Homo sapiens: one gene and its partners. The protein of the gene in region 3 interacts with the protein of the main gene of each other region in a pairwise test. Each region holds a gene or a part of one and is shown on either strand. Other genes may lie near its edges.

Evidence for each region. Proteins that work in one complex are often made in the same cells at the same time.
Region 1: the proteins of EPS8L1 (region 3) and WFS1 interact in binary tests that used the Homo sapiens proteins (3 or more experiments, as listed by UniProt).
Region 2: the proteins of EPS8L1 (region 3) and HTT interact in binary tests that used the Homo sapiens proteins (3 or more experiments, as listed by UniProt).
Region 4: the proteins of EPS8L1 (region 3) and ABI2 interact in binary tests that used the Homo sapiens proteins (3 or more experiments, as listed by UniProt).

What each region holds. Positions count from the first base shown.
Region 1 is NC_000004.12:6,285,983-6,290,349, forward strand, and holds part of WFS1 (wolframin), read left to right. Parts: intron 1-1,110; coding exon 1,111-1,193; intron 1,194-3,004; coding exon 3,005-3,149; intron 3,150-4,367. UniProt on the Homo sapiens protein: Participates in the regulation of cellular Ca(2+) homeostasis, at least partly, by modulating the filling state of the endoplasmic reticulum Ca(2+) store.
Region 2 is NC_000004.12:3,240,702-3,244,457, reverse strand, and holds the end of HTT (huntingtin), read right to left. Parts: 3' UTR 501-3,756; downstream 1-500.
Region 3 is NC_000019.10:55,081,474-55,086,707, reverse strand, and holds part of EPS8L1 (epidermal growth factor receptor kinase substrate 8-like protein 1), read right to left. Parts: coding exon 5,216-5,234; intron 4,936-5,215; coding exon 4,809-4,935; intron 4,617-4,808; coding exon 4,528-4,616; intron 4,434-4,527; coding exon 4,359-4,433; intron 4,255-4,358; coding exon 4,106-4,254; intron 3,331-4,105; coding exon 3,189-3,330; coding exon of another isoform or gene 3,093-3,188; coding exon 3,064-3,092; intron 2,942-3,063; coding exon of another isoform or gene 2,926-2,941; exon of another isoform or gene 2,466-2,925; intron 990-2,465; coding exon of another isoform or gene 950-989; exon of another isoform or gene 868-949; coding exon 735-867; intron 648-734; coding exon 516-647; intron 317-515; coding exon 190-316; intron 1-189. UniProt on the Homo sapiens protein: Stimulates guanine exchange activity of SOS1. May play a role in membrane ruffling and remodeling of the actin cytoskeleton.
Region 4 is NC_000002.12:203,376,027-203,380,393, forward strand, and holds part of ABI2 (abl interactor 2), read left to right. Parts: coding exon of another isoform or gene 1-106; intron 107-4,181; coding exon 4,182-4,358; intron 4,359-4,367. UniProt on the Homo sapiens protein: Regulator of actin cytoskeleton dynamics underlying cell motility and adhesion. Functions as a component of the WAVE complex, which activates actin nucleating machinery Arp2/3 to drive lamellipodia formation.

The DNA.
Region 1 (4,367 bases), on a different chromosome or scaffold from region 3:
GAACCTGTGCTAGGAAAATGACTTCCCAAAAGAAAAGAAACGGTTCATGGCACCACCGTAGAAAACAAGAGGTTATTGGAAGCAACCTACAGACCTGATGGAGAGGAGGGGAGGGTCAGTAACCTGACTCTGTCTCCTTGATGGATCTAGGAGCCACCAAAATGGTGAGCTGACTGCAGCGCATCGTGGGAAGCCAGAGAACAATCCACTGCTGTGGACTGAAAGTTTGTGTCTCTCCCAGATTCATTTGCTGAGGTCTTCACCCCCAGTCCCATGGTGTTAGGAGGTGGGGCCTTTGGAGGTGATGAATCATGAGCGATGGCTTTACGGTGGAATTAGTGCCCCTATAAAAGAAACCTCAGGGAGCTCCCTTGCCCCTTCCACCCTGTGAGGACACAGCCAGAAGACCTGAAACAAAAAGCAGGCCCTCAGTAGACACGGAGTCTGCAACACTATGATCTTGGACTTCCCAGTCTCCAGAATCGAAAGAAATACATTTCTGATGTTTGTAAGCCACCAGCTTGGTCTATGGTATTAATATTTTTGTTATAACAGCTCGAACAGACTAAGGCATTCACTCTTAAGAAGGAAAAGGTAATATCAAGATGTATATACACTGATTATAATATCCAAAAAATGTGGTTTTTGTTGGTACAATCATGGAAAACATGAACTTGATTTGTTGGGGTTCTGGGCTTCGGGTACAGGTGCTTTGTATTATTTAGGTCATGGGCTGTCAAACTTGAGTCCTTGGATCTTTCTAGAGCCCCAGCTAGAGCAGGCCTAGGCCAAGGGGTGTGATGGTGGGACTTGGCTCTGTGCTCGCCTCCTTCCCATGCCTCCCACCCCGAGCGCTTTGAGTTGCTGTTGAACCACCTCACCCGCATAGAGTTTGCTCATCTTGCTCTGGCGCTGCTTGTGACCGGAAGGCAAACAGTGGCTTTCTGGGCATCTTCCCTGTCTGTGTCTGTGTCTCTCTGTACTCCTGGCCTGGATTTGAAAGTGACAAGCAGCAGCAGATCTGAAGACCCTCATGCCTTGTCCCCTCCATCCTGACAAGTGACAAAGTCTGGCTTTGTGACATGTGTGTTTGTTTCTTCTGTGTTAAAGGGCCTACAAAGGGAGACATGGAAATCCCCTTTGAAGAAGTCCTGGAGAGGGCCAAGGCCGGGGACCCCAAGGCACAGACTGAGGTGAGGACTGCGGTGCCGGCAGGGACTTCGGGACGCGGCCCCCGGCACAACAGGCCTGGCCACGAGCTCCACAGCCCACAGAGAAGTGTCGGTGCCTGAGATCGGGGTCAGGAGCCAGCGTGGTGCACCCTACCCCACTTGAGCCCCATGTTGGTAGGGTGCCCATGTTCACTGTGCCAGTTTTCCTCCTGGCACTCCTCTGGGGAGCAGCGCTCATCCCCCTTTTGTCCAACTCACACCTCATCTTGGGCATCACCTCCTCCAGGATGACCTCCTGGCTTCCTGCAGCTGCCTGCTCAGTGCCACCCCTCAACATACACTGTGTATGCTGCCCACTCTTGTCTCCCTGACTGGCCTTTCACCTGGCTGTTAGCTGTGTGCACGGGGCCCTCAGAGCGGTGACCATTCACTTGGGCATCAGCCAAGGGCTGGGCTTTGTGCCAGTGCTGGGGACATGATGTGGCCCTCTCTTCATGGGTGACAGGTTAGTGGAAGAAGCAGACCCAAAAAACCCAAGTAGACAAGACACAGAAATACAGTGATTTTGAATTCTGGTGAGGGGAGAAGCCAGCAGAACGCTGAGACGGGAGGTGGCAGGGGGTCCTGTGTCCTCTGTGGAGGCAAGTTCTCACCACCTCACTCTGTCCCCTTGCACAGGGCTCAAGCAAGTGACCACAGTTATCCTGAGCAGTTTCCTGCCCCCTCTTCTCCCTAAAGAGGAGAAAAGCTTCCACGCGAAACCATAAATTAAGAATTTCTGGCTGGGAGCGGTGGCTCACGCCTGTAATCCCAGCACTTTGGGAGGCTGAGGCGGGTGGATCACCTGAGGTCAGGAGTTCGTGACCAGCCTGGCCAACATGATGAAACCGTGTCTCCACTACAAATAGAAAAATTAGCCAGACATGGTGGTGCATGCCTGTAATCCCAGCTACTTGGGAGGCTGAGACAGGAAAATCACTTGAACCCAGGAAGTGGAGGTTGCAGTGAGCCGAGATCGCACCACCACGCTCCCAACTGAGCAACAGAGCAAGACTCTGTCTCAAAAAAAAAAAAAAAAAAATTTCTTTCCTGACCTCACAGCCATATTGTACTTTAAAGTTCCTCCCACATCCTTTTGCCCAGGCATTTGGAGGCGGGGGGAGCATAGTAAGCCCTTTTATGGGCTCTCTGTGCCCTGGGCCTCACTTTTTCCATCTGTAGAATGAGAAGACTGGACCATTTCAGCAGGGATTCTTTTTGCAAAGGGCCAGATAGTGAATATTCTGGACTCTGCGCAATCTCTGCCGTGTTGCTCAGCTTTGCTGTGGAGCACGTAAAAGCAGCATGGACAACATGTAAATGAATGGTTATGGTTGTATTTCAATAAAACTTTATTTGCAAAAACAGGCAGTGGGCCAGTGCTAACCCTTGGTTAGCTGGCGTCTCTCCAGCCCTGGCTTTCTATGGTCCCCTGACTGTTTTGAGAGGTGTAAAGGACCCAGTCATGGTTCTGATTTCCATGCATTGATGGTGAGCCTTGGCAGGCAGGAGCAACTCAAGGAAGAGAACCTGTACCAGTACCAGTCGGAGCCCGTGTCTCCCTCGCCGTGTGGATGGGGTGGCCACACCTTCCTCACCGTGTTTTGAGGAGCGAGTGGCCGGAGGCTCAGTAGGGCCTAGCCTAGTGGACATGCCTGGTGTGACCCCATTTCTGCCCCTTCCTTCCTGGCCTGGGTGACAAAGGGAAGTGGGTGAAAGGAGGTGGGCTGGCAGGGAGCATGGGGTGGGAGAGGGTCGGAGAATCTGGAGGCTGACTGGTGTCTGGCTTGCAGGTGGGGAAGCACTACCTGCAGTTGGCCGGCGACACGGATGAAGAACTCAACAGCTGCACCGCTGTGGACTGGCTGGTCCTCGCCGCGAAGCAGGGCCGTCGCGAGGCTGTGAAGCTGCTTCGCCGGTGCTTGGCGGACAGAAGAGGTGGGTCTGTGTGAGGCTTAGAACAGCCTCTGGAGGGTTGAGCAGCTTGTAATGCTGCTTGCTAACTGAACAACTAAAATCTTACCAAACCTAACGCTGGTGATGCTGTTGGGAAATTTCAGTTTCTGTTTTGCTGGTGGCCTTCTCATTTTAGACACTGTTTCTGGACTTAACATGGGATATTTAACAGACCAAGCCATTTTCATTCTCTTTGGCTTGTGTTGGTATCTCCAAGTGGTAACTATACATCCTGCTTCCCTGCTGGGTTCTGATCCAAACTGAGACATCGATCCTGGGTTCAGCTGAGAGGCAGTTTCCCTGAGGCAAAGCTGGAGACTGTAATGTGGCCTGCAGTCAGAGTGGCCCATGCCCCTGAGCTGATGTCCGTCGAGTCTGGGCAGACCAGCTGAGGGGCTGTGGGCCCACACAGACCTGGACAAGCATGTTCACTTTGGGAGGAGGCAGGCTGACCCTTCATAGATAATCTCTTTCAAACAGAGAGGCAGGGGAGGAAAGGGACGCAGCTCAGGCCAGGGGTGGTGAGTTAGGACGTTGTCCTGCGCAAGGGAAGTGGCTGTCCCTGGTGCCGTGGGGCAGTGTGCTTCCTGAAGGTTCCACGCCTCAGGGAAAGATGAAAGTGGGTGTCACAAAGGTGTTTTTTCTAATGATACCTTTTTTTTCAGATTGTAAGAGTATTTTATGCTTATCATAGAAAACTTGGACTATGTAGAAAACATAAAGATACAAATTACTCATAACCTTGAAGCCCAGAAGCAACTCCCCATATTTTGGTGTATTTCCTTCTGTGTTTGTTGTTGTTGTTTTGAGATGGAGTCTCACTCTGTCGCCCAGGCTAGAGTGCAGGGGTGCGATCTCAAGTCACTGTAACCTCCACCTCCCTGGTTCAAGCAATTCTCCTGCCTCAGCCTTTTGAGTAGCTGAGATTACAGGCGTGCATTACCACACCTAGCTAATTTTTGTATTTTTAGCAGAGACAGGGTTTCATCAGGTTGGCCAGGCTGGTCACAAACTCCTGACCTCAGGGGATCCACCCTCCTTGGCCTCCCAAAGTGATGAGAGTACAGGCGTGAGCCACCATGCCCAGCTTGTATCATATTTTAAGAGTTACATTTATTATACAGAGTCTTCTCTTTGAAAATTAAACTGATGATTTTGAAAAACTAACAGTGGCATTGTTAGCCAGAATTTCTCACCAAC
Region 2 (3,756 bases), on a different chromosome or scaffold from region 3:
CTGGGAGCAGCTGGGCCAGGGACGCAGGTGTCAATGGCCAAGGAGGTGGAAGGGTGGTGGGCCCTGTGAGAACACAGCTCTAGTCTCTGTGCTGGGCCTGATGACCTGCTTCAGTGCCATGGGCCAAGTCCTGAGGCTTGTGTATGTCATATAAGCTTATGATGTCACTTGACCATGAAGGCTCCAGCAGCTCCAGCAGCTCCCACAGCTCCCATCTGCAGGGCAGGAAGACCACCTGTACTGTGGTTTGGGAAGGCCCTTGCAGAAGCACCCAGCCAGGCCCATGCCCTGGGGCCACTTCCTCATCCCTGGCTACAGAAAACACGGGGCCTGTCCCTGCTGGCAGCTGCCTGGGGGACCCTCCATAATGCCAGATGTTAGCTGGTGGGACAGTTTCTGCCCCTGCTGGAGAAGCACTTAGGAGACTGCTTCCTAAGACTCCAGCTCAGCAAGGTCTAGGTTCTCATGAAGCAAAGCAAGCCTCACACAGCAACAACTGATGGTTTCCATTTTTTTCCTTTAATTTGGATGTACAATGTTTGCAGCAGTTAAAAAATTAAATATACATCTCTCGTCAGTCCTTCCCTTTGCTCTCAGAAGCATTCAGGTCTGGGTGGGGCTCCGGGACTCGCCCATCACAGCCCTGCTGGCTCCAGGGGAGCTCAAGCTCAGCTGACAGTCCCTCTGACCACGGTGCAAAGCAGTGAGACCTGGACAAGGAGGCCCCACTTGGGTCAGAGCCCACCCTCCGTAGGCAGGTCCACGTTGGCCACGATCCTCCAAGGCTGGCAGTTACCACCCAGATTGCAGCGGGAGACTCTGCTCTTAGAAACAACTGAGGGGAAGGCGTTCCTTTGACTGCACCAGAGCGTGACAGGCACATGGGGGAAGAGCGGCCCCTGAACCTTCCAGGTTGCCTTCAGTTGTCATGCGGCATTCTGAGCAGCTCCCTCCTTCCCAGGAGGCCCAGGCCCGGCAAGCGAGTGTCCTCGTCTGAGCCATCCTGAGCTCTCCAAGGTCCCTCAGCAGCTCTCAAGATCTTCCTTCTTCTCACTCCTACACGTGACCCCTCTGGAGGACAGCTCCAAGTCTACCCTGGCCAGCAGCTGTGGTCCCGGGTCCTCCCCGCAGAGGGAGGAAGCGGGGGAGGGACAAAGCCCGATGAGGATGTCTGCTGGGAAGGATGCTCACAGGTAGCAAGAGAAGCCTGACTCCACCCACCAGACACACAGAACTAACCTCACTCCACCCCGCAACGGGAGGAAGTTCCACCTGCCAGGCGGCCACACACCGAGTTATTGCTGTCTACTATCCGTCCCGAGCTCCACGTGGGGCTCATCTCAGCTCCAAGAGGAGGAGCTGTTCATTGGCTCCGAGGGCTCTGAAATGACCCCCTCCATGAAGATGGGGGCGAGGGGTGTCCTTTAGGGCACAGGGCCTTCTCAGATGCTACATTCTGGGTGTCTGGAGGGGGTTCAGCTTCACATTTTCCCCTTGAAAGGACACATGCGCTGGCAGAAATGAGGGTGGACAGTAACAAAGAGCACTTGGCAGCTGGAAACATCACCTACATAGACTCAGCTGGGCCCGCAGCGGAAGGGAGGCACATTTTGGGAAAGAAACACGCTTCAGTGCATTGCCAAACAATTCTACCCTGGTTTCATTAAAATCTTTCCCGATATTACCAGCAGGAAAACAAAAGCAATCTCCCCACAGCCCACCCCCAAAACTTGACAACCAAATTAATCACATTTGCAACAAAATTTGGATAATACGATGGGTGCTTGCCACAGATTTTTAGGAACATGATAAAGTCTTCCTCCCTTCTGCAGAGAGCTGATATGGAGACCATCTTCGCCAGTGGGATCCTAGTGGGCAATGAATGAGCCCTGCCCTGACCACGTCCCACGCCTGGATGTCCGTCACGCGGCTAACTTGACCTGGCGGGTCTAAGGAAAGTCAACTTCCAGGAAGAACCGACACGGGCACTCTTAGAGGCCATGCATCTCCGTCTTGAGAGGTGTGTGTGTAAAATTATAGATGTGTCTATATGCACATGCATGGATACTTTATGTATATGCGTGGGTGAAGTCATTTTTACTAATGAGCTCATATTCATCTCCGGAGCACACAGGCAGGTCTTTGGGGGTGGGGGACACCTACTGCCAGAGCGGGGTGTTCTGAGCCCCTTGCTAAGGACTGGTTTAGATCACGTCGTAAACAAGAGGAAGACAAACTCTATGTTGAGCCCAGCGATATGCATTCCAAGGGAATGGCTCTGTTTTACATTCACAGTGTTATTTCTTACAAATGTAAACATCTAGCCAGGAACAACATCTGGCCTGTGATACTGCTGTCTCAGAGCTGCTGACATAACCTGCGGGGGAGGCGGGAGGCGGGTGGGGAGCAGCCAACAGTTCTGAGAACTTTCCCCTCGTTCCCAAACCTTCTAGCGGGCTTTCCAGGAAAAAGCTAGGATGAGAAACAGGAGCCCCCAACCAATACGGAATGGTGATTTTCTTACGTGTTATAATTCAGTAGCTTCCCTTAAGGGCCTCCTCAAACATCGGACCCCTTTCTACCGCTCCTGCTGCCCCGCCACGAGGACGAGGTGGTCCTGGCTGGGGGAGGCCTCTGTTGGGAGCTGGTGGGAAAAGCCTCATACAGGCCTGGCAGAGGCTGCTCAGAGGAGGGGCTCCCTTTCAGCTCCCCCTCACGTATGTGGGCAGCATACAAGTCCACATCTCAGCTGCTCCCCAGCTGCCACATAGGAGAGGGACAGGTGGAAGCTTGGGGGTCTCAAGGCAGCACCTGCACAGAGTTCCAACATTTCCTCCACTTACCACATTCAATACCCAAAACATCGACGGGCATGACCAAACCAAGCCACATGACAGTCGCCAACCTTGCCTGGCTCGCCTCTAGGGCTGAGGAAGCAGAGCCCCTGCCTCGTCTCACAGCCAGTCGGCAAGCAGAGCTCCCAAATCCAGCTCCTACATCAGCAGCAGCCCGGCCATCCAGAATCCACTTCCATTTTAATGACTTGGCTCCTCTGGGCCTGCAAACAGGAGGCTGGTCCAGGGACCTGGCCTGGGGATAGGAGTGGCGGCTCTGACAGGGCCGTGGGGCAGTCTCCGATGAGCACAGATCTGCACTCTCCTGACTAAAAGGGGTCACCGTGCAAGATGTCAGCTGGAACGGGGGCAGAAGGGATGCTGGGCTCTGTCACTAACAGTGCCAAGACACCAAGCTTTGCTGTTGACCGAGAGAGGCTCAGACAAAACACAGCTCAGTGACACTCTTAGGGCATGCATCCATGGAGCAGCAGGTCCCAACACCTGCCAGCCAGCTCCTAGGCAGACGCCACCCCAGGGCTAGCAAGGAACAGGAGTGGGAGGCCCATGTCTCTGGACACAGTGGAGGCTGCTCACAGCCAGGGAGGGCTGGCCTTCTCAGCTGAGTGACAGGGAGGCTGCTGTCCCTGACTGGTGGGTGGAGAACGACAGTCGTCTGTGCCCGAGGAGGAGGGGCTGCAGGTGAGCGCACCCCTAGGATAATGGGGGCCTGTCCTCAGTCCTGCTGTGGCCACCTGCCCACTAACGCCTCTCTACATCCCAGTCACCTTGTGAATGCATAAACAGGAACATGTACAACGGAAATGTCAGCGGGTGCTCAGGAGGGCTATGCCAGTGGCTACAGGAGAGGGAGCGTGGCCGGGGGCCCTGTCCACCACCCCGGACGCTGTCGCATGCAGCA
Region 3 (5,234 bases):
GCGGGAAACCGGGAGGTAGGGAGTGCGGGCTCAGGGCGAGGGGTCCTGGGGCCAGAGGGCGGGGCGGGGGGGCGCTCCAGCGTCCCCAGAATGGGACGGGAGTCCCTTTGCTCTTTCTGAGCCCCCGTTTCTCTGCCTGGAAAGCAAGGATAAGGACCGCTCCCCGCAGCCGGCGTCCCCACCACTCACCCTTCTCGCTGGGGTCCAAGCCGTTGAGGCTATCGCAGCTGTCCCAGCGGGGCCTGTCCCAGCGGGGCCGAGCCAGAGCTGGAGGTGGGGCCGGGGCTGGGGCTGGTGGTGGAGGAGGAGTGCTGTTCTGAAAGGAAGGAGAGGAGAGTACCTGGGTTAGGGAGAGGACTCAGAGTCCCAGCCTCTCCCCTTTCTGGAGATGCATTTCTGAACCCCCAGTCACCACCTGCTCCAGCACTCTTGACAGCTGATCCCCACGCCCCTTGTTCCCAGGATCTGGTCCCAGCCTCTCCACCCTCAAGATCCCAGCGTCTGCGCTGGCTCACCAGGCTGCGGGCAGGGCTTTGGCTGTGGTGCAGCCGGGGTCCGGGGTAGGGTGTCAGGATGTTGTAGGGCACATATCCCTCCTGCCCCGCTGGGTCCCGAACCTTCCACCACTTACGACTGTCATCCAGGACCTGGGTGTGGTAAAGAACAGAGGGTTCAGAGCCTGTCTGCAGCTAGGGCTGGCTAATTCCTGCCCCTCAGCCTCCCGCTCCTCTAACCTCCAGTACGTCCCGCTGCTTGACCGACAGCTCACTGCTGTTGCGGGCCTGGAAGTCATAATTACACAGGACCCATTTTCCTGCTGTCTCTGACTCCAGCTGAGGCTCAGATTCTGGCTCCAAGTCTCGGTGACTGAGGAGAAGCGGGAGGGTTGGAGATAAGGAGGCAGCCAGCCCCATTGCTCTGGGCTGCAGGGTGCTGGTGTGAGCTGGGGTTAGAGCCAAGCTGGGGGCACAGCAGGGGCCGGGTTAATACTGTTAATAGAAATTTGAAACAAGAATAACAGACTGAATATATTTGCTCCCTCCGTTGCTTGGCATTGTGCTGTAGGCATATGTAGTGGGTACTATCCCACCATCGATTCCATTTTACAGAGGAGAATGAGGCTCAGAGCGAGAAAATGACTTGCCCACATCACACAGCTAGAAACAGCTGTCATTTATTGAGCATCTAATAGGCACTGGGCTTTATATATCATAACTCATAAGCATAATAAAAACACTAGCTAGGCCGGGCGCGGTGGCTCACGCCTGTAATCCCAGCGCTTTGGGAGGCTGAGGCGGGCAGATCATGAGGTCAAGAGATCAAGACCATCCTGGCCAACATGGTGAAACCCTGTCTCTACTAAAAAATACCCAAATTAGCTGGGCGTGGTGGCACGCGCCTGTAGTCCCAGCTATTCTGGAGGCTGAGGCAGGAGAATTGCTTGAACCTGGCAGGCAGAAGTTGCAGTGAGCTGAGATCTCACCACTGCACTCCAGCCTGATGACAGAGTGAGACTGTCTCAAAAAACAATAGCTACCACTTCTGTACCACTTACTGTGTGCTGGGCACTGTTCTGTTACGTATATTAGTTAATTTGATCTTTATGACAACGGTTGGTAGAACCATGAATTTGGACTCCCCTCTCTCCCCCAGTTTCTTCCTCCCCCAGAGACCCTATGATCTCCTCCATTTTCACAGAGGAGGAAGCTGAGGCACAGGGATGTAAAGGTCACAGAGTAAGAGAGTGGCATCGCCAGCCCGGGACCAGGGTAGCCCAGGTCTGAATAATGCTGCCTTAGTTTGCAGGCAGCTGGACTTGAACTTGAACCTGGTCACAGCCTTAAGCCCTTAACTGCTAGTTCCTACAACACCACAGACTTCTCACTGTTCCGGGAACGGATAATCATTATTCCCAGTTTCCCTGCAAAAAAGAACTTGAGGCTCGGAGAAAGTGACTTGAAGCTGTGAACAGGGACCAGGGTTGCGATATCAGGCAGCTGGGGGCAGGGGTGGGATTTCAGCTCTGACCCCCAATAAGAGGGACCTCAGCCTGGATCAGGCCTACCTGTGCAGGGGAGAGGGGGGGTCTTCAGGGCCGCGGCACCCCCTGTGTGGGGCCGGCAGCTCCCAGCACGCTGTCCCTGCTGAGACCCTCTGCTCGGGCCCTCACCCAGACCCCCCTTTGTCTCCTCCAGCCTCACTGCTTTGTTTTCGTCTCCTCCCACGTTGCTTCCCTCCAGTCTGCCCTCTATTTGCTCAAGGACCCTAGAGTTCTAGTCCATCTACCTCCTTCCCTCCCCCAGGACCCAGAGTCTGAGCCCCCACTGCTTGGTAGAACCATGACTTGGAATGTTCTTTCCTCCCCCAGGGACCTAGGAGTCCAGGTCTCAAGCTTCAATCTTATCCTTTTAACCCTCAAACCTTTTAACCCAGTCCGACACCCAGCAGCGACTTAGACAATTGCATTAGAGCCTCTGGAAAACCAAGAGTTTAATCGTCCAGCCTTTACCCCTCTCGGGGGCCCAGAGATACTACCACTTCCTAACTTTCCCAGAAACTTGCCCCCAAGCCCTTGAAGTCCCAAGCCTGCTCCTCTGGGTCTCCAGGATCCCAAGCACCAGACTTGGGCTCTTCTTCAAAACCCAAAGGTCCAATTCCCCAGCCTCTCCCCTCCAATATCCAGGGCTCTGTCCTCCTAGGGAGCCCAGGCATGGTGCTTCCCAGGCCCTGGGAAAACAAACTGGCTTCTTCCAGCCTTTTGGGGATCCAGGGATCCAACCTCTCAGACTTTACCCACTCCCAGCCCCCTTCCTCCCTTAGGCCCAGGAATCCGGGTCTCCATTCCCAACTCCCTTAGCCCCAGAAGTCTGGGTCCCGCCCCCTCCCACCCTGCTCCTCCCTCTCTCCCAGCCCCGGCCCGCCCCATCACCATCTCACCCACCTGAGAAGAGCCAGGAAGACAGAAGGAAAAACACAGAAAAAAAGGGGGCGGAGTCAGCATCGGGAGCCCCCGGGACGCACCCCTCCTTGACCCCCTTGCCCTGCCCTGGGGCGGACACTCACCCATTGACAGCGACCTGGGGGGCGCTTTGCTGTAGGAAGTAAGACAGTCGGGTCAGGCGGGGCCAGGCGGACCGGCCGCGCCCCCGGACTTCCCAGCCTCGGCCCTGCTGTGTCGCTTGGGTCACCTGCCGGCGCCTCCGCTCGTGCTGTAGCTGTTTCTCAACTGGGTCCTCCCAGGCGCGGCTCTGCGGGTCAGTGACCGGCGGCTCCCAGCCGCTGAAGAACTCGGGTCTGTATGGGGGTCCCTCCTCCGGGGACAGCTCCAGCCTGCGGCCAGGGACAGGGCCAAGAGCTCAGGGATCCTGATACAGCCCCCAACTTCGTTCCTGCATTAACTTCACTAAGTTTTCCCCTAAAGCTCGCTGTATTCCAACGATTCTAGCCCCGCCACTTTTCACCAAGTCCTGCCGGTAGCTCTAAGCCCAACTCAACAGCAATTTATATTTCTAGACCGGGCACGGTGGCTCACGCCTGTAATCCCAGCATTTTGGGAGGCCAAGATGGGAGGATCGCTTGAGGCCAGGAGTTCCAGACCAGCCTGGGCAAAATATTGAGACCCCATCCATCTCTCTCTCTGGAAAAAAATTGCCTTATCCAGCCTCTAAATCTCACCTGATTCCAAATCAGGTTTTCCGTAAGGTCGGTTTCAGGTTCTGACCCTTTCCCTGCGGAACTGCCAGCCCGCAGTGCACAGACTCTGTCCCATCACCAAAGTTATAGACCAAACCTTCCAGAAGCCCCGCCCCTTCGCGTAGCCCCGCCCCTGCCCCGTAGCCCCTAGCCCCTCTATTCCTTTAAGCCCCCCTTTTCTTTCAATCCGATTGGTCTGGTGGTCTTAAATCTTTCCTTCACGTTAATTCCTGGCCTTTCCTCCAATTGAATCTTGGCATCTGTCCTAAGCCCCGCCCCAACACAACTAAGCCACGCCTCTAACCCCTCCCTACTCTCCTAGTCCTATTTTCCAATCATCATGCCACCCACCTCCCAGCGCCTTATGCTCCTCCAATCACCATGCCCCCTGCCTCCCAGCCCCGCCCCTCACCCGGGGCGGGTCCACGAGTCCCCCAGCGAGGTCCAGAGCTCGTTTTCACGTGGAGTGACGTTGTCCCGCAGCAGCGCCACGGCATCCGATGTCAGATGCGGCCGCCGCACACTGCTCGCGAACTCCGGCCCCCCCGACGTGTTCACAATCTGTCAGGGGAGCAGGAGGGGCAGGCTGTGCCGCCACACCTTCTACAAGTCGAACCCGATTCCTCCCGCTGCAGGGGGGCCCGAGGGCCTGGGGCGGGTCTCACCATCTGCAGAGGCCCGAAAAGGAAGTGCAACAGCTCCGGAGAGGAGGGGTCGGCGATGTTGCCGCGCAGCCGGGCCTGGGGCGTGGGGAGGGAGGTGGTTGGCGTGGGTGCGGGGACGGGACAGGTTCGTCGTGCCCGCGCCCCGGCCCAGGGGCGGGCGCGTCCTCACCAGCAGGCTGAAGGCGTACTTGATCTTCTGCAGCACGTCGGTGTACTCGGCCTCCGAGGGCGGCTTGGCCCGCAGCGTCAGCAAGCCCTCTGAGGGGAGCAGACGGGCGCGGCGATGGGGACGCGGGGCCAGCACCAGGCAGGCAGAGAGAGGTGGACACCCGGTTAAGATGGCGGTGAGGTCAGCCCTGGCAAGTGGCGGGAGGGGAGAGCCTGGGGAGAGCGGGGACATTTGGAAGAGATCGGGAGGGGGTTCAGATCCCACGCCAGGGTGCCCCTTACCCCCAGCCGCCCGGCGCCGGCTCCTGCGGCCGCGTTCCCGGTGCTCCAGCACCCTGGCCGCCTCCGCCGACTTCTGCAGCCTCGATACAAAGCTCTCTACGTCGTCGAACACGTGGTTCAGGATGTCCTAGGGGACAGAGGAGGGGGACGCTCAGGGCTCCCGAGTTCCAAAACCATCCCCGTCGAAGCCCTGAACCTGAGCACCTATACACTTCCCCAGATCAGGCCACGCCCCAAACACCTGGCCACGCCCCACAACCAAGCCCCGCCCCCGACCCAGCCCCTCTTCCATAACGCAGAAGTCTGACCAGAGAACGCCCGTCCCGCAGCCGGCCCCGCCCTTCCACGCCCTAGCCCCGCCTCCAGTCGCCTGGCCCTGCCCCCAGACCCCTTCCTTAGCGGCTCACCACTTCCCGCTCCGCCTGC
Region 4 (4,367 bases), on a different chromosome or scaffold from region 3:
AAGTTATTTACTTAAAATATCTATACTTAGGCAAATTAGAGGCGTTGATCTTGAGTCGACTTTTGTGACCAAATTTGGAAACAATTGCAGTTTGAGATTGAATGAGGTAAGGGACCAGCTAATTAGTCCTTCCTCTATAGATCTTTGGTTCTCAACCAGGGAAGTTTTGCCCCCAAGGGGACATTTGGCAATGTTAGACATTTTTGGTTGTCACATCTCATGGTGGGGGAGTGCTACAGTTATCTACCTGGATGCTTTTCTATATTCTGCAATCCTCAAGACAGCAGCCTTCACCCCTGCCCACAACAAAGAATTATCAAGCCCAAAATGTCAATAGTGCCACTGTTGAGTTACCCTGCCCCTAGTGTTTCTAAGATGTAGGCATTCTTTGAAGTAGACAATTAAAAACATCATATAGCCAAACTAAATTATTTTGACTTTCTGTATACTTATGCTGTTTAAAAAACATGCCTTCAGTTTTTACTGAGATTTGATATAAAAAGCAACAACAAATATATTTTTAAAGAATTTAATCCTGGGAAACATTTCACTTTCCTGATGAATTGATATATTTCCTCGTAACTCATTATGTTTCTATTTTGCCTTCTCTCCCTGGAGGCTTAGTGCCAATTTTTTTGCTCTATTATAACAATGACCCTTTATTTTAGGCTTATTGTTATCTTTCTATTTACTGTATTGGTCTTCCCTTTTTTTTTTTTTTTTTTTACTGTTATGGTCTATGGGTTTGGGCTAAGTGTGTGTTTGTGTGTATATGAAGAGAACATGTGGGTAATATGTAAATGTCCCCAATCCCTAGACCAAGTCACATCTCTATAAGATCAAATGAACAGATTTCTAATTTATATTTTAATGCTTTTTTAAAGTCTCAATTTTTCAAACAAGAAATATGTGCTTGTTATAAAATATTACTGTGTGTTAGTGTAAATAATAAGTGGAAGATTACTTCTCCCTGTTCATTCTCTGGAGATTTATTAATATTTCTAGTATGTGCCAGGCATAGTGGCTCATGCCTATAATCCCAGCACTTTGGGAGACTGAGGCAGGAGCATTGTTTGAGGTCAGGAGTTCAAGACCATCCTGGGCAACACAGTGACATCCCATCTCTACAAAAAATAAAATTAGCTGGGCATGGTGGTACATGCCTGTAGTCCTAGCTACTCAGGAGGCTGAGGTAAGAGGATGCTTGAGCCTAGGAGTTCAAGACTACAGTATGCTATGATTGTCCCATTGCACTCCAGCCTCTGTGACAGAGTGAGAACCTGTTGCAAAAAAATGTATATTTATAGTATGCAGATGTGAAATAGAAGCTATAAGCTTGTAATTCTGTTATGGCTGCTCAGGTTTACACTCTTATAGTTTCATTTCTGAATAAGTTAAGTACATTTCTAAAAACTGAGGAGAATAAAAACAATGTCTTGAGGATTGTGTTATCTGATGAACCTTTTATTGATCTGACGAAGACCCATTTTATAAAAAAAGTGTCATATTTTATTTTTTGAAGCATACTTGATGGTATGAAATGGTATTTCTAGCCCATACTTTTAATGATTTAGAATGACTCACTAAACTTTATTCAAGGCCAGTACATTGGCTTACTCCTGTAATCCCAGCACTTTGGGAGGCCAAGGTGGGTGGATCACTTGAGCTTAGGAGTTCAAGACCTGCCTGGGCAACATGGAAAAACCCCAACTCTACAGACAGTAGAGAAATTAGGCCAGCATGGTGGAACACGCCTGTAGTCCCAGCTCCTTAGGAAGCTCAGGCGGGAGAATCATTTCAGCCTGAGAGGTCGAGGATGCAGTGAGCCATGATCGGGCCAGTCCACTCCAGCCTGGGCGACAGAGTGAGATACTGTCTCATAAAAATAAAATTTAATCCAAATGTGATTAATTTCCATTTCTCTAAAGTTAAAAATTAAGTGAATTCCAATATCATCACTAATATGCAAGCTTAACTTTTCTGTTACAGTTTTCCCAAGCAGTTGAAGAGGAAAGCTATTCTCATAATTAGCCTAACATGCGTAGAAAAGTTTAGAGATTATTTTTTTTCTTTTTCTTTTTCTTTTCTTTTCTTTTTTTTTTTTAAGATGGAGTCTCGCTCTGTTGCCCAGGCTGGAGTGCAGTGGCACAATCTCGGCTCATTGCAAGCTCTGCCTCCTGGGTTCACGCCATTCTCCTGCCTCAGCCCCCCAAGTAGCTGGGACTACAGGCACCCGCCACCATGCCCGGCTAATTTTTGTATTTTTAGTAGAGACGGGGTTTCACCGTGTTAGCCAGGATGGTCTCGATCTCCGGACTTTGTGATCCGCCCACCTTGGCCTCCCAAAGTGCTGGGATTATAGGCGTGAGCCACCATGCCTGGCTGAGATTGTTTTTTTCTTGAATACTTAAAATTGTAAGATTACTACCATGGTTAGTTTTTTATTTGATGTTCCATTTATACATTCGTTAGCTCTGGAACATATAGATCCTGTTGTTTTTAAGGTCTCTTGGTTGTAGAGAAATAAGAGGCTTTGAATTTGTTTCAGGCTTACCTCATACTTGAGGCAGTTTAGAAGGATAAATGATCAGTGTTCAGATTTCTTAAAGCAGTATTTTATAATGTCATGATGATTATCTTTTCACTGTTACTACCAGGTTCTTTTAGAAAGGGGAAATTGAAGTAGGACATTGAAGTGGGACTGGGGAGGAGTTAGCAAAAAATGTGTCTGTTGATTGCTGCTTGAGCCAGGAATTGGTGGTAAGAGATGTGAACCATTTTAGTGAAGTGATTTTTCAAACTCTTTTGACTGCGACACACAGGAAAAAATTTTTTTTACGTTGTATTCAGCACATAATTCATGTATATATTTATATATATAATAAACAGACTTTTCAAGAAACAGTATTTTACCTTACTATGTGTACATGCAGTCTGATGTTTCTGTTCTATTTGATTTGAAATAATTGCTGCTTACATACCACTAAATTGCAGCTTGCAGTTTAAAAAATTTTGCTTTAGTGTACTAATTACCTGTGTATGTGGAGAAATTCACCCTCTGTTAGCAAATAGAAGATTGTAATTACAATACATTCTTACTCGTATGTCTTATGTGAGCATTTAATAAATATAAATAAATTAATGAAATATTTTACAGGCATTTTGTCATGATAAAATATAAGCAGCTTTGCCCAAGCAACTTGGTCTTTTGGGGTCAAAAAATGGCTTTTTTGTTTTTTGACACAGGGTCTTGCTCTGTCACCCAGGCTAGAGTGCAGTGGTGCATTCATGGCTCACTGCAGCTTTGACCTCCTGGACTCAAGCAGTTCTCTTATTTCAGCCTCTCAGTTAGCTGGGATTACAGGCATGTGCTGTCATACCCAGCTACTTTTTGTAGAGACGGGGTTTCGCCATGTTGCCCAGGCTGGTCATGAACTCCTGGGATCAAGCAATCTGCCCACCTTGGCCTCCCAAAGTGCTTGGATTACGGGCCTGAGCCACTGTGCCTGGCTTTATTTTTAACATTATATTTCAGCCCTCTTTCTTTTTAAATAAAAAGATGTTTAAACATGAATAGAAATTATACTAATAGGTCATTAGAAATGTAACTAGATTAATTTCGGGGGCTTTCTTAATCACTATATTAGTCTAAATCTTAATGGAGAGGGAAAAATTAGCATGCTTTAACCCAGGGGTTGGCAAACCTTTTCTGTAAAGGAGCCAGCTAATATATACTTCAGTTTTTGTGGGCCATACCATCTCTGTTGTGGCTCATCTCTGCCATTACAGTGTAAAGCCTAGACAGATAAGCAAGTGAGCGGCATGGCTGTATTCCAATAAAACTTTACTTATGGAAAAGCAAATTTGAATTTTATATAATTTTCACGTGAAGGTTTTTTTTGGTTGTTCTTTTCTCCAAACATTAAAAAATGTAAACACCACTCTTAGCTTGTGGGCTGTAAAAATCAGATGATGGGCCAGATTTGGCCTGTGGGCCATGGTTTACCAGCCCTTGCTTTAACCTAAAAATGGAGAAAATCAGTAGTCCAGAAGAATAAAAATTTAGCAAGCATAGTTTAGAATATGAGTAGCAATATTAAATCTCTAGGCATATATATTTTGATTTTTGTGGATATTAGAACTATACATTTTTGTGTTGTTTTTTACATTATATTTTGCAGACAGTTGATATTCATAAAGAGAAAGTTGCAAGAAGAGAAATTGGTATTTTGACTACCAATAAAAACACTTCAAGGACACATAAGATTATTGCTCCAGCCAACCTTGAACGACCAGTTCGTTATATTAGAAAACCTATTGACTATACAATTCTAGATGATATTGGACATGGAGTAAAGGTAGGTATA